Linked DNA regions of Homo sapiens: region 2 is linked to region 1. The links come from fine-mapping of genetic effects on gene expression. A gene starts in region 1. The other region holds a variant in brackets. All regions are shown on one strand. Distances are between the middles of the regions. Region 1 holds the start of SLC38A12 (solute carrier family 38 member 12). Region 2 overlaps SLC38A12 (solute carrier family 38 member 12).

Evidence for each region. PIP is the estimated chance that this variant, and not a neighbour inherited with it, causes the effect.
Region 2: its variant is the best candidate, but not a certain one, in a credible set for the expression of SLC38A12 in tibial artery (GTEx, PIP 0.58).

The regions. Positions count from the first base shown.
Region 1 is chr17:74,773,652-74,779,021 of GRCh38, forward strand. It overlaps SLC38A12 (solute carrier family 38 member 12), which reads left to right and starts at 2,848. Exons shown (of 10, transcript NM_017728.4): 1 at 2,848-2,926; 2 at 3,613-3,724. The coding sequence starts at 3,680. It overlaps NAT9 (N-acetyltransferase 9), which reads right to left and starts at 2,694. Exons shown (of 7, transcript NM_015654.5): 1 at 2,616-2,694; 2 at 1,971-2,056; 3 at 1-37. The coding sequence starts at 2,047. RefSeq lists an enhancer at 2,376-2,495.
Region 2 is chr17:74,800,654-74,806,023 of GRCh38, forward strand. The region is part of intron 8 of SLC38A12 (solute carrier family 38 member 12); the gene reads left to right. Among named protein-coding and RNA genes, the nearest start is that of SLC38A12, 27 kb to the left of the region's middle. The variant T/C (reference allele first, on the strand shown) is at 3,352.

The sequences.
Region 1 (5,370 bases):
CTGCAGCTCCTCTGATTTCATCCACTCGTGGTACCTGCTGGGACAGAGGGGTGGCTTTAGACATGGAGGACTCATTCAGAGGCATACGTCTGACACCTTATGAGGGTCCAGAACCAGACAGGGCTAACATAGGGCTCAAAGAAGACCCAAAGGGTTATGATTGCTCCTAAGGCAGGGGCCACAGACACAAGACCCAGAAGCAAGCTAGTCTTACACAAGAACAGCAGGACGAGTCAGTTCTATCTGTCCAATTTCCTATCCTGTCTCGGGTCAGTGCGGAGGAGCAGTCTGAAACCAAACATTCTTCAAATTCCAGAAGGGGATGTATATGGCAAGCCAACCTCAACAAAGGCGGCTGGACAGATCCCACGAAGTTAGGGCACCAGGAACCCTCAAACGGAAAACTACAAGTAGAGAATACCCATCTACAGCACCACTATCCCAATCTACCAGACATGTGCCAACTGCCCCCACAGGAATCCCATCATGACTCAGTCCTGGCCTTTTGAATGGTAGATATCACAACTCATCAGCTCAGAGTTCAAGGACAAGCTAACATTAAGTCTCCAAGAACTGAACATACTCACTGGCACCAGGGAAACATCACTAATTTACAATTAGGTGAGAAGACAATTTCTTTTTCTTCCACGTTTAGTTTACATAAAGCAATTCCTTGCTGAAAGGCCAAAAAGCTGAGAGAATGAAAGGGAAGAGGATGGGCAGCTCCTCCCAAGGAAGTCACAGTCCCCAGGTTCTGCTATTTTTTTTTTTTTTTTTTTTGAGACAGAGTTTTACTCTTGTTGCCCAGGCTGGAATTACAGGCATGTGCCACCATGCCCAGCTATTTTTTTTGTATTTTTATTAGAGACGGGGTTTCTCCACGTTGATCAGGCTGGTCTCTTTTTTTTTTTTTTTTTGAGACGGAGTCTCGATCTGTCACCCAGGCTGGAGTGCAGTGGCGCGATCTCGGCTCACTGTAAGCTCCGCCTCCCGGGTTCACACATTCTCCTGCCTCAGCCTCCCGAGTAGCTGGGACTACAGGCGCCCGCCACCACATCCGGCTAATTTTTTTGTATTTTTAGTAGAGACGGGGTTTCACCATGTTAGCCAGGATGGTCTCGCTCTCCTGAGCTTGTGATCCGCCTGCCTCGGTCTCCCAAAGTGCTGGGATTACAGGCGTGAGCCACTGCGCCCAGCCTTTATTTTATTTTATTTTATTTTTGAGACAAAGTCTCACTCTGTTGCCCAGGCTGGAGTACAGTGGTGTGATCTCGGCTCACCACAACCTCCACCTCCCTGGTTCAAGTGATTCTCCTGCCTCAGCCTCCCAAGTAGCTGGAATTACAGGTGCCGGGCAACAAGCCCAGCTAATTTTTTGTGTTTTTAGTAGAGATGGCGTTTTATCATGTTGGCCAGGCTGGTCTTGAACTACTGACCTCATGATCCACCCGCCTCAGCCTCCCAAAGTGCTGGGATTACAGGCGTGAGCCACCGCACCCGGCCGTTTTTTTGTTTTTGTTTGTTTTTGTTTTTTTGTTTTTTTTGTTTTTTTTTGAGACAGGTTCTTGCTCTGTCACCCAGGCTGGAGTACAGTGGTACAATCACAGCTCACAGCAGTCTTCATCTCCTGGGCTCAGGCAATCCTCCCACCTCAGCCTCCCTAGTAGCTGGGACTGCAGCTGTGCACCACCATGCCTGGCTAATTTTTGTATTTTTTTGTAGAGACAAGGTCTCGCTACGTTACCCAAGCTGGTCTCGAACTGCTGGGCTCAAGCAATCCTCCTGCCACAGCCTCCCAAAGTCCTGGAATTACAGGCGTGAGCCACGGCACCCAGCCTTTTTTCCCCCCTCATATATAATTATTTCTCACAACCAATGTTTCTTCTTAGGGGAAATAGCCCTGAGACTGGGGCTGTACCTTACACAGCTCTGGGTGCTGATACGCACCCCATGTCAAGCGGGAAAGATACCTGGGCACATGCTCCGAGGTGTAGGGTACAAGGACCACCTTCTTCCCCAGCAGCAAGGTGTTCTGATTCAACCTCATGGTAGCAGCCTGCATGCAGATGGGGAGAGCAAAGACTTCAGGACCCTGAATTTCCTCCAACTTTGGGTAGGCGCTCCAGCTTTCCTGCTGGGGCTAAGTTGACTTCCGTCATTAGTTCCGTCTAGACACTTCAAAGAATACAGACTCCAAAATTCTTGCAAGAAAGAGAACCAGGCTGGTTAAGGATAATTAAACAATCCTTGACTCCCACTCCAAGAGGCCAAGCCTGGGCTCCGTTTCTGCCGGTTCCTTCCGTCCACTCCCCAGAACTTCGATTCCTCAAACCCAAGCACCAAGTACCAAGTACCAAAGTATCCCCAGAGCTCCCATTACTTGCCCCAGTCCAGGGATTCCAACCCAGAATCAACTTTCAGCCCTGCCTTAAACCTACTTCCAACCTCTTACCCCGGCGACCACCCCACGGGGCTCTAGCCACTCCCTCCCCGCCCCCGACCACTTCAGGGCAAGGCGGGCTTAGTCTTAGGCCCTCCCCTTTGAGTGGCGTTCTAGACCACTCTCTTCGACCCTCCAACCACGCGGACCCGGGTACTGCCAAGCTCACACCCACCTACCACCGACGAAATCGTCCCCCGCAGAAAGGGTGATCTACCTCCTCCAACCAGCCACGTTCCCAGGCCCGGCCGGCTACCGCCCCTTCCGCATGCGCGTGAGAACGCGCCCCGCCCACTTCCGCCATGCTGACGGCAGCCGCCAGGCCCCAATCCCGGTCCCGCCCCCGCGAGGCGCCCAATCAGCGCGCGCGAAAAAGGTGGGCTGTGGGGCCGGCGCATGCGCGCTGCGGAAGCTGGTGCTGGACAGCTGGCGCCGGCAGCAGCGGACCGGCGGGAGACGGCGGCTTGGGAGCTGGCTGTGCTGCAGGTGTTGGGTCGGGTCGGGTCGGGACGGGCGGGAGAGGACGAGACGGGTCGGGATAGGTTGGGGCGGGGCGGGGCGGCACTAGACTCGGGACTCCTCCAGGAGGGAGAGAGAGGGAGAGGCTGGGAGTGGGGTTCTTGAGAAAAGAGGGAGCTTTGAGGGTGGGGAACCCTAAGAGAGTAGGTGGGGCCAGGGAGTGGAGGCCCCATTAAAAAAAGGAGGCCTTAGTGCCAAGAGTGGAGTTGGAAGGGCAATGTAGGAAAGCCCCCAGCTCCCTGCCCTAGGCAGAGGCGGCAGACAGTTCCTTGGGCTCCCATGTGTGGTAGTGAGCTCCTGGTTCCTGGAACTAAACGAGGATAACCACCCCAGAGCGTGGAAAGGGGGCTCTTGTGGTGGGTGAGACTTAGTGGTTTTAGAGGCCCCTTAAATCACTTGCACCCCGAGCAGCATTGAAAACATCCGTGCTGGGCACAGAGCAGTGCCCTGCACAGCAAGGGAAATGTTAGAAGAAACCGTCCAGATTTCTGTCATCCAGGGTGACCCCTCCCTCGGGGGTGAGTCTTGTGACAGATACTGAGGCCCTAAGTGTCTGTGATAAAAGAACCAGAGGTGGCAGGGGAAGTCTGCAAGCCTCCTCCCACCCCTGTCTCAGTCCATCAGATAGGTGAAGCCTGCTCTTTTGTTTTAAGGAGCTGCGGCAGCCGCCGTCCTTGCACCTAAGGAACCTCTGCTGCCAGCCCTTCCTCACTTTTGGAAATGGCGGGTGAAATTACAGAGACCGGGGAACTCTACTCTTCCTACGTGAGTGTGACTTATAGAACCTTTTGCTCACTTAAGTGTTCCTGGCTTCTAGAAAAGCACATTGCTTGCTGGAGATGGGACTAGTGAGTGCTGCTGCTTGAGCAGACCATAGTGGAAGCAGGATGGGGGAGTTCCATGGGGCAGCGACTACAGTGCTGCTGTGGTGGCTCAGAATGTAAGTCAGATTTATTCTCTTTTTAAGGTGTTTGTCAGAGTGGTCAAGCCAAACAAAATCGCCATGCTGTTTATAATGTTAATCCCGGGCTGGGCACGGTGGCTCACGCCTGTAATCCCAGCACTTTGGGAGGCTGAAGCGGGCAGATCACCTGAGGTCAGGAGTTCAAGACCAGCCTGGCCAACATGGTAAAACCCTGTCTCTACTAAAAATACAAAATTAGCCGGGCATGGTGGCACTGTAATCCCAGCTACTCGGGAGGCTGAGGCAGGAGAATCGCTTGAACCCGGGAGGCGGACGTTGCAGTGAGCTGAGATCGAGCCGTTGCACTCCAGCCTGGGCAAAAAGAGCGAAACTCTGTCTCAAAAATAAAGAAATAATGTTCATCTCCAGGCTACCACACTTGCCTGCAGTGCTGCCCTTCAGATGAACAGTGATTGACAGCTGTTGACTCTGGGTTTTGCTCATCTCAGCAGTTGGAAACCGCTTTGGTCTTTACTGAATTTTAAATTGCACAACTTTTATAGTCTTGGATGGCGTAAGAAGCAGCGAAAGCATACAGAGACTTCTAATTACAGTTTGGTGGACTCTGCAATTAGAACAATTAGAATGATTGATTCTCACTGTCTTAGGTCTGTGTTACCTCTGGCTGCCCCCAACACACACGCAGTTTATCTTCTCTATGTAACGTATGATTGGTCATAGTTGTTACATCACAGGGCCCTCTTGCCTGGATAAGTAGCCAGAGGGTTGGAATAATCAGATGGTTGACTCAGGTTGCTACCAACCCTCCCAGGCAAAAGCAGCACTGCCCTAAGTAGCAAGAGTTTTCTAGAACTTGACCTGCCTTCAACAGCTGCCCTGCCTTGTACATAGCTTCCTAGCCTGGGGATCTCTGGTCTGTTTCTGCTAGCTTCACAGACTAGCATTGTGGTGTGATGGACAAGGAAGTGTCTCCAAGACATTTCCTTCACAGCTGGAAGAAAGCCTTCCTGATTCCAGAGTCTTCCTATTGGGCCTGTGCCATTCATGTGTGGCAATAAAGGAGCCTTCTTCACCCATCACCTGTGTAATTTCTCAGGGGAAGTCTTTTTTTTTTTTTTTTTTTTTTTTTTGAGACAGAGTTCCACTCTTGTTGCCCAGGCTGGAGTGCAATGGTGCAATCTCGGCTCACTGCAACCTCTGCCTCCCAGGTTCAACCTCTGCCTCCCAGGTTCAAGCAATTCTCCTGCCCCACCCTCCCAAGTAGCTGGGACTACAGGCATGCACCACCCTGCCCAGCTAATTTTTTGTATTTAGTAGAGACAGGGTTTCACCATGTTGGTCATGCTGGTCTTGAACTCCTGACCTCAGGTGATCCACCCGCCTCAGCCTCCCAAAGTGCTGGGATTACAGCCGTGAGCCACTGCACCCAGCCTCTCAGGTGAAGTCTTTCATGAACCCTGGAATGGAATAAATAGTGTCCCTCTCA
Region 2 (5,370 bases), 27 kb after region 1:
TGGAGACTCTGGGGACACTGTGCCGCCTGCCTCCCAGGCACCACTCTTGTTGCTTTCAACGTCAGTGGTGCCCCCAGGGCACAACTCCAGTAGAACACAGTGAACACTGCCCCCGAGTTTATGCAGCGTCCAGCCCGGGATTGAGTGAAGTGCAGTCAAACAGGAAAGGTGGCCTGGGGAGGGCCTGGCAAGAAAGTGGACAGGATAAGCAAGCTGTCTCTGTTTAGGAGTCTAGTGGGTTGGCCCGTCTAGAAACGGAATGCAGGACCCTCAGCCCAGAAAGCAGACAGCCTGTCAAGAGTGTCCCTTCCTGGGCAACATCCACCCTCTCATGTGGTTCACGTGAGTTAGGACTCAGCCTCACACCAAACCAAGACGAGTCAGGAGGAGACTCCAGGACGCCTGGAGGGGGAAGGGTGTTGCTTCCAGGGTCGGGGACATCCAAGTGCCTCCTTTATAGGATGGCGACCATGTAGGGGCTCACTGGGGTGACCCGGGAAGCCCATCTTCTCTCCTTTCCTTTTCTTCTCCCTCCCAACGCACCTCTTGTCAGTTCCTCCTCATTCAGTTCTGGAGACTCTAGAAAGGTCGGGTTTGTTTTGCCTTTCACCTTTTCCTCCCCTCTCGCCTATGGAGAGATGTCCGTCACACCTGGTGGCACCGCAGGTGCACTGCGTGCAGTCGTTCTAACCCGTGCCCACCACCACCAGGAGCTGGACTCGGTGAGGCTTCGAGGTGTCTTCAGCCAGCTTTGGTGTGGGGTTGTGAGCCCCTGAGATGCATGTCCCGGGTGCTGTTTGTCCCACATATGCTGAGCCTTTGAGGTGTCTTCAGCCAGCTTTGGTGTGGGGTTGTGAGCCCCTGAGATGCATGTGCCAGGTCCTGTTTGTCCCACACATGCTGAGCCTTCTGCAGTCATCCCGTGAGACTGGGTGTCAAGGAAGAATGTGTTTCTTCCCCGCACCCCAAAAATGTGCGTGCCCGTACCCGCCACCCAAGCAGAGCTGGGAGTCTAACCTGGGTGAACTCTAACTTCAGACAGCGACTGCGCTCAGGCTGAAATGGTGACCTCAAAGGATTAGCTTGTCTCTTTCTTTTTCAAGGAAATCAATAATACAGGGACAGGCCTGTGTTGTTCTTGCTTGCTTGCTTTTTTTCCCTAGGAGCTGTCTATATATCTTAGACCAGGAATGGCTTCTTGTCTTCCGTGTGCTTTCCATCCCCCTACCCCAGCCCTCCCTAAATGAAATTCAGGTTGCCTGTCACTCACTCCCACACTGCAGCTTGTCTCTCTAGCTCCTAGCCAGGGACAGCGTGAACCCCCACCACCCCACCCATTCCTCCGCCACTGCTGCTCCTGTCTGAGCACGGCCCCTGTCCCTCCTTTCTTCCCGGAGTTGCTCCAGCCTGTCCCTTCACCTTGCTGAGGACACCTGGGTGACGCCTCCCTGAGTCACCCTGTGACTGCCTCCTCCACCCTCATCCCCAGTGCCCATGCTTTCTCCTCCTGCTCAGGGAGAGGGTTGCTGTTTTTGTTTTTAATGTCACTCTCAGGGACGTGGGTTCGGTTGACTGGCATTATGCCCACCATCCATCATGCCCCACGACCTATGACCTGTCCCCACCTTGGCCAATACCTATGCGCCAGTTGAGAGGATGATGCCTAGTCCCCCGTGCCACCGCCTCTATGGTCTCAGTACAGGTGCCAGACTGGGGGACTCAGTGTCACAAAGCAGCAGGCAGTGGCTTCTTCTCCCTACCACTCCCTTACCCAGCTCGGAAGCTGCTCATGGGCCTCTGTCAAGGTCCTGAGGGGTGACAGGGTCTTATGTTCTTGCTTCTAAGCTGGTGACCGACATAGCCCCCTTCACAGCATGACAGTTGGGTGTCTCTGGCCCTGGTAGAATGTGCAGGTTGGGTATCCCTTCCCCAAAATATTTGGGACCAGAAGCGTTTCTGATTTCAGATTTTCTTCAGATTTTTAGAATATCTGCATTATACTCACAGTAGAGCATCTTAAATTCAAAAATCCAAAATATTCCAGTGAGCATTTCCTTTGAGGATCGTGTCAGTGCTCAAAAAGTTTCAGATTTTGGAGCATTTCAGGTGTTGGAATTTTGGATTTGGGGTGCTTAGCCTAAACCATATTTCTTTACCCCATCTCCATTGTCTGTAAAATAATGAGTATAGCCTTGCAAAGACTTCCTACCCGCAGCAAGCCAGGTTTACTCCCGGGCACGTGGGGAAAACGGCAGTGTAACTTACCTGGTTGCTCATCCCTCACCCCACCCCCATTCACCAATTCCCCCAGGAAGTGAATGGAGATGGGAAATGATCTGTTGCCATGACCTTGACCCACACACACCCAGCATTCTTAACTCCTAGGAACCCCATTATATGAAAATCCAAAGGTATGAAATAAATTGGGAGGGTAGTTACTTGTTACAAAGTGATTCCTTACTTTACAGAAGGATTTGCTTCAGATTTCTCTTAAGTACTCAGTTTCCCTAGTGTATTTAAATGTTGTTCTGTGAAAATTAAGCATTTGTAAAAGAACTTCAGGAGCCCTTCTCTTGTGTAAAGGGAGATATCCGTGTATTCATAGGCAAAGGTGCAGAACCCCAAAGCCCGGTTGATGTTGCTGGAGAAACAGGCAGGCAGGGCTTGGGGTGGACATCATAGGCAGCCCACCTGAAAGCAGTAACCAGCGATTCCCCTTCCCCTCTCCCCATCCACATCCCTGAGCTGGGAGAGCTCCGCGGAGCTTGATAAGTATATACCCGAGCCCCACACCTGTGCACAGGCCAATTTGGTTGGGAAGCTTCCAGGCAGGGCTCAGTGGGGGAGTATCCATCCCTGCTGGGGACCTTCTGCGCTGAGCTTTTTCAGGACCGTTTCTTTGCAGGTCTCATCCTGATCCCAGTCAGACCCCGAGCCCGAGGCCTAAGCCCTCCTTGTTTGTGAGTGGTGCAGTCAGGGATAAAAACCCGGTGTGCCTCACTTCCCAAGCCACCTGGGCTGATCCTGGCCACTGACCTGTGCGTGCACATGCATTTCCAGTCATTCCCCTCGAGAAGCTGAGCCCCGGGCAGACTCCCAAAGCTCAACAGCCCAGTCCATCCCACACTGTGCACCCCGCTGCTTCCAGAACTCCCATTTCTGGGCAAAGAACTAAAAATAGTTTTTATTATATCTGTTAAGAGTACATCCCAGTTGTTGATTTCAGATCTCTCCCTGCCACCTTTTTTATTTTTTATTTTTTTCTTCATTTCACAAAATAAAAGTGTCAAAAAACTCCATAGTCTGTGGAATCTAGCAACCTCCCAGTAGTTTGAGAGTAACATGGAATGT[T/C]CTTCAATATTTTGTGCTAACTAAAATGAAAACTGTATATGCCAAACTGTTTGTCTTCTGCTCCGTGTCTGGCTGCTCCTTTTATCCTGTAGATCAGTCTGTGGCATTTGTGGTGGCCCTGCCAAGTTTTGTGAGGCTGTGCTATTCCCTGAATGATGCTTGCTCTGTTACAGGGTGTGTATCATAAGCAGAGCCTGATGTCTTTCTATATAGCGCCCCAGGGCCCTAGCAGTAATTGTTTAATTAAATAAAGCACTCACTCAAAAGTAATAGCCGTGATCCTTCGTGTGGCCAGTGTCCCAGCCAGCGGTGCTGGCCCTGCACACTGGCTCAAAAGCAGCACCTGTGTGCAGAGAAGAAATAGCTGAGTGTGCGCTGTGCAGTGCACCCTGGCCCTGAGGAGAGGAGCCACAGAACCCCAGAGGGTTTACAGCCAGCAGAGAGGTGCGAGGGACTCGGCTATGATGGCCCTTACACAGAGCTGAACGATTAGGGTGCACATTAATGATGATATCGGATGAATTAGCATAAGCCCGGATGTCTTGTGGATTCGCTGACAGTGGACCAAGGAACATTTTCATAAGCCTCAGGCACAAAAGGAGGCACTGGGGGTGTGGCAGCAGATACCCCATGTGAGTGTGACTCTAGAAGGGTCTTGAGCCACCGCAGGGCATGTGTAGTTTGGCAATGGCAAGAACTTCCTTCAACCATGGATTGAGACATTTTCTGAACACCTTGATGGGAAGAGAATGCAGGGACTGGTATTGGGTGTTGGGCACTGGCTGAGGCCGGGAGGCCCCTGCGGTCTGTAATGTCCAGTTCTGGCGCCTTCTCCCACACTACTGCAGGGAGGCTGTGCTTCACCTGAGAGGCAGGTGAACAGTCTCTGGGAACACTTCCCAGCTGGTCCCTTTCCCCTGGATCAGGAAAGTGTTTCTCAAGATCTGGTTGCCTGACCACTGGCACAAGAGTGCCTTCGGGCTCTTAATAAAAATGTAGATGCTTGGGTCCTGCGCCAGGCCTGATGCAGTATATTCGAAGGCCACAGGGCCCAGGAATCCGCATTTTCAACCAGTTCTGAGGAGAATTCTGTGTGCTTTTCCCTTTGAGAAATCCTGCTGGCGCAGATCTGTCGAGGTAGTAAAAGGTCTCCCGGGGAGAGGCCTACTCTGGTCTTCCTTCAGGAACTGCTTCCCACAGCACCATGGTGGAGGCAGCTGTCAAGGGCTTCCCGTGCCTGCCTTTTGCAGGGAAAGGAGAGGGGCTGGGCAACCTACAGGTGCTGCCACATCCTGGAGTCCACACCTAAGGCACTGCCAGAGAGAAGAGGGGCTGTGCGTGCCCACTGGCTGGAGGCTGCTTTGTCACTTGCGGCTGACGGGTACCTCCCATGTCCCTAGCGGGTGGTGCTCTAGGCTTCCCCTGTAGCTTCCTCTGAAGCTGCTGGTTGGGGGCTCTAGACCCCGCAGCGTGCCAGCTCCCCGGAGAGGGCATCTCACTCTGACCCCCGACTAGGGAGGAAGCTGGGGGCTTGCTGATGTCACTTCTCAAACCCGCTTCAAGAGAGCTCATTAATCAGCCAGCTTGATATGCCATCTCCCCTCCGTCCCGCCTCCAAGGTTACTCAGTTCCCGGTCTATTTCAAGGCCAGACGTCAGCAGAAAAGGGGTGGAGCCAGCTGGGCCTGTGCAGCCCTCTCTGCAGGGCACCCGTGTTCTGGGCACCTGACTTCCCTCCCTTGCTTCCTCCAGCTCCTGCTGGAGCGTTCCCACTGCCATTGCTCTTCCTGCGCCGAGAGCATGGACCGAGGAAGGGAAGATGCCGAGAGCATCTCAAGTGATCGCCTGGCACCTCTCCTTGAGTGACGCACAAGCTCCGGGCAACAGAGGGCGATGGCACTGCCTCCTCCTGTTCCCAGGGCAGGGCGGGGGATTGACAGCTAGACTCTGGGCACCAAAAGCCATCAGATGCCAGCTGGTTACTGGAGACGCAAGCGGCCTCATGGGTTCCGAGGCCCAT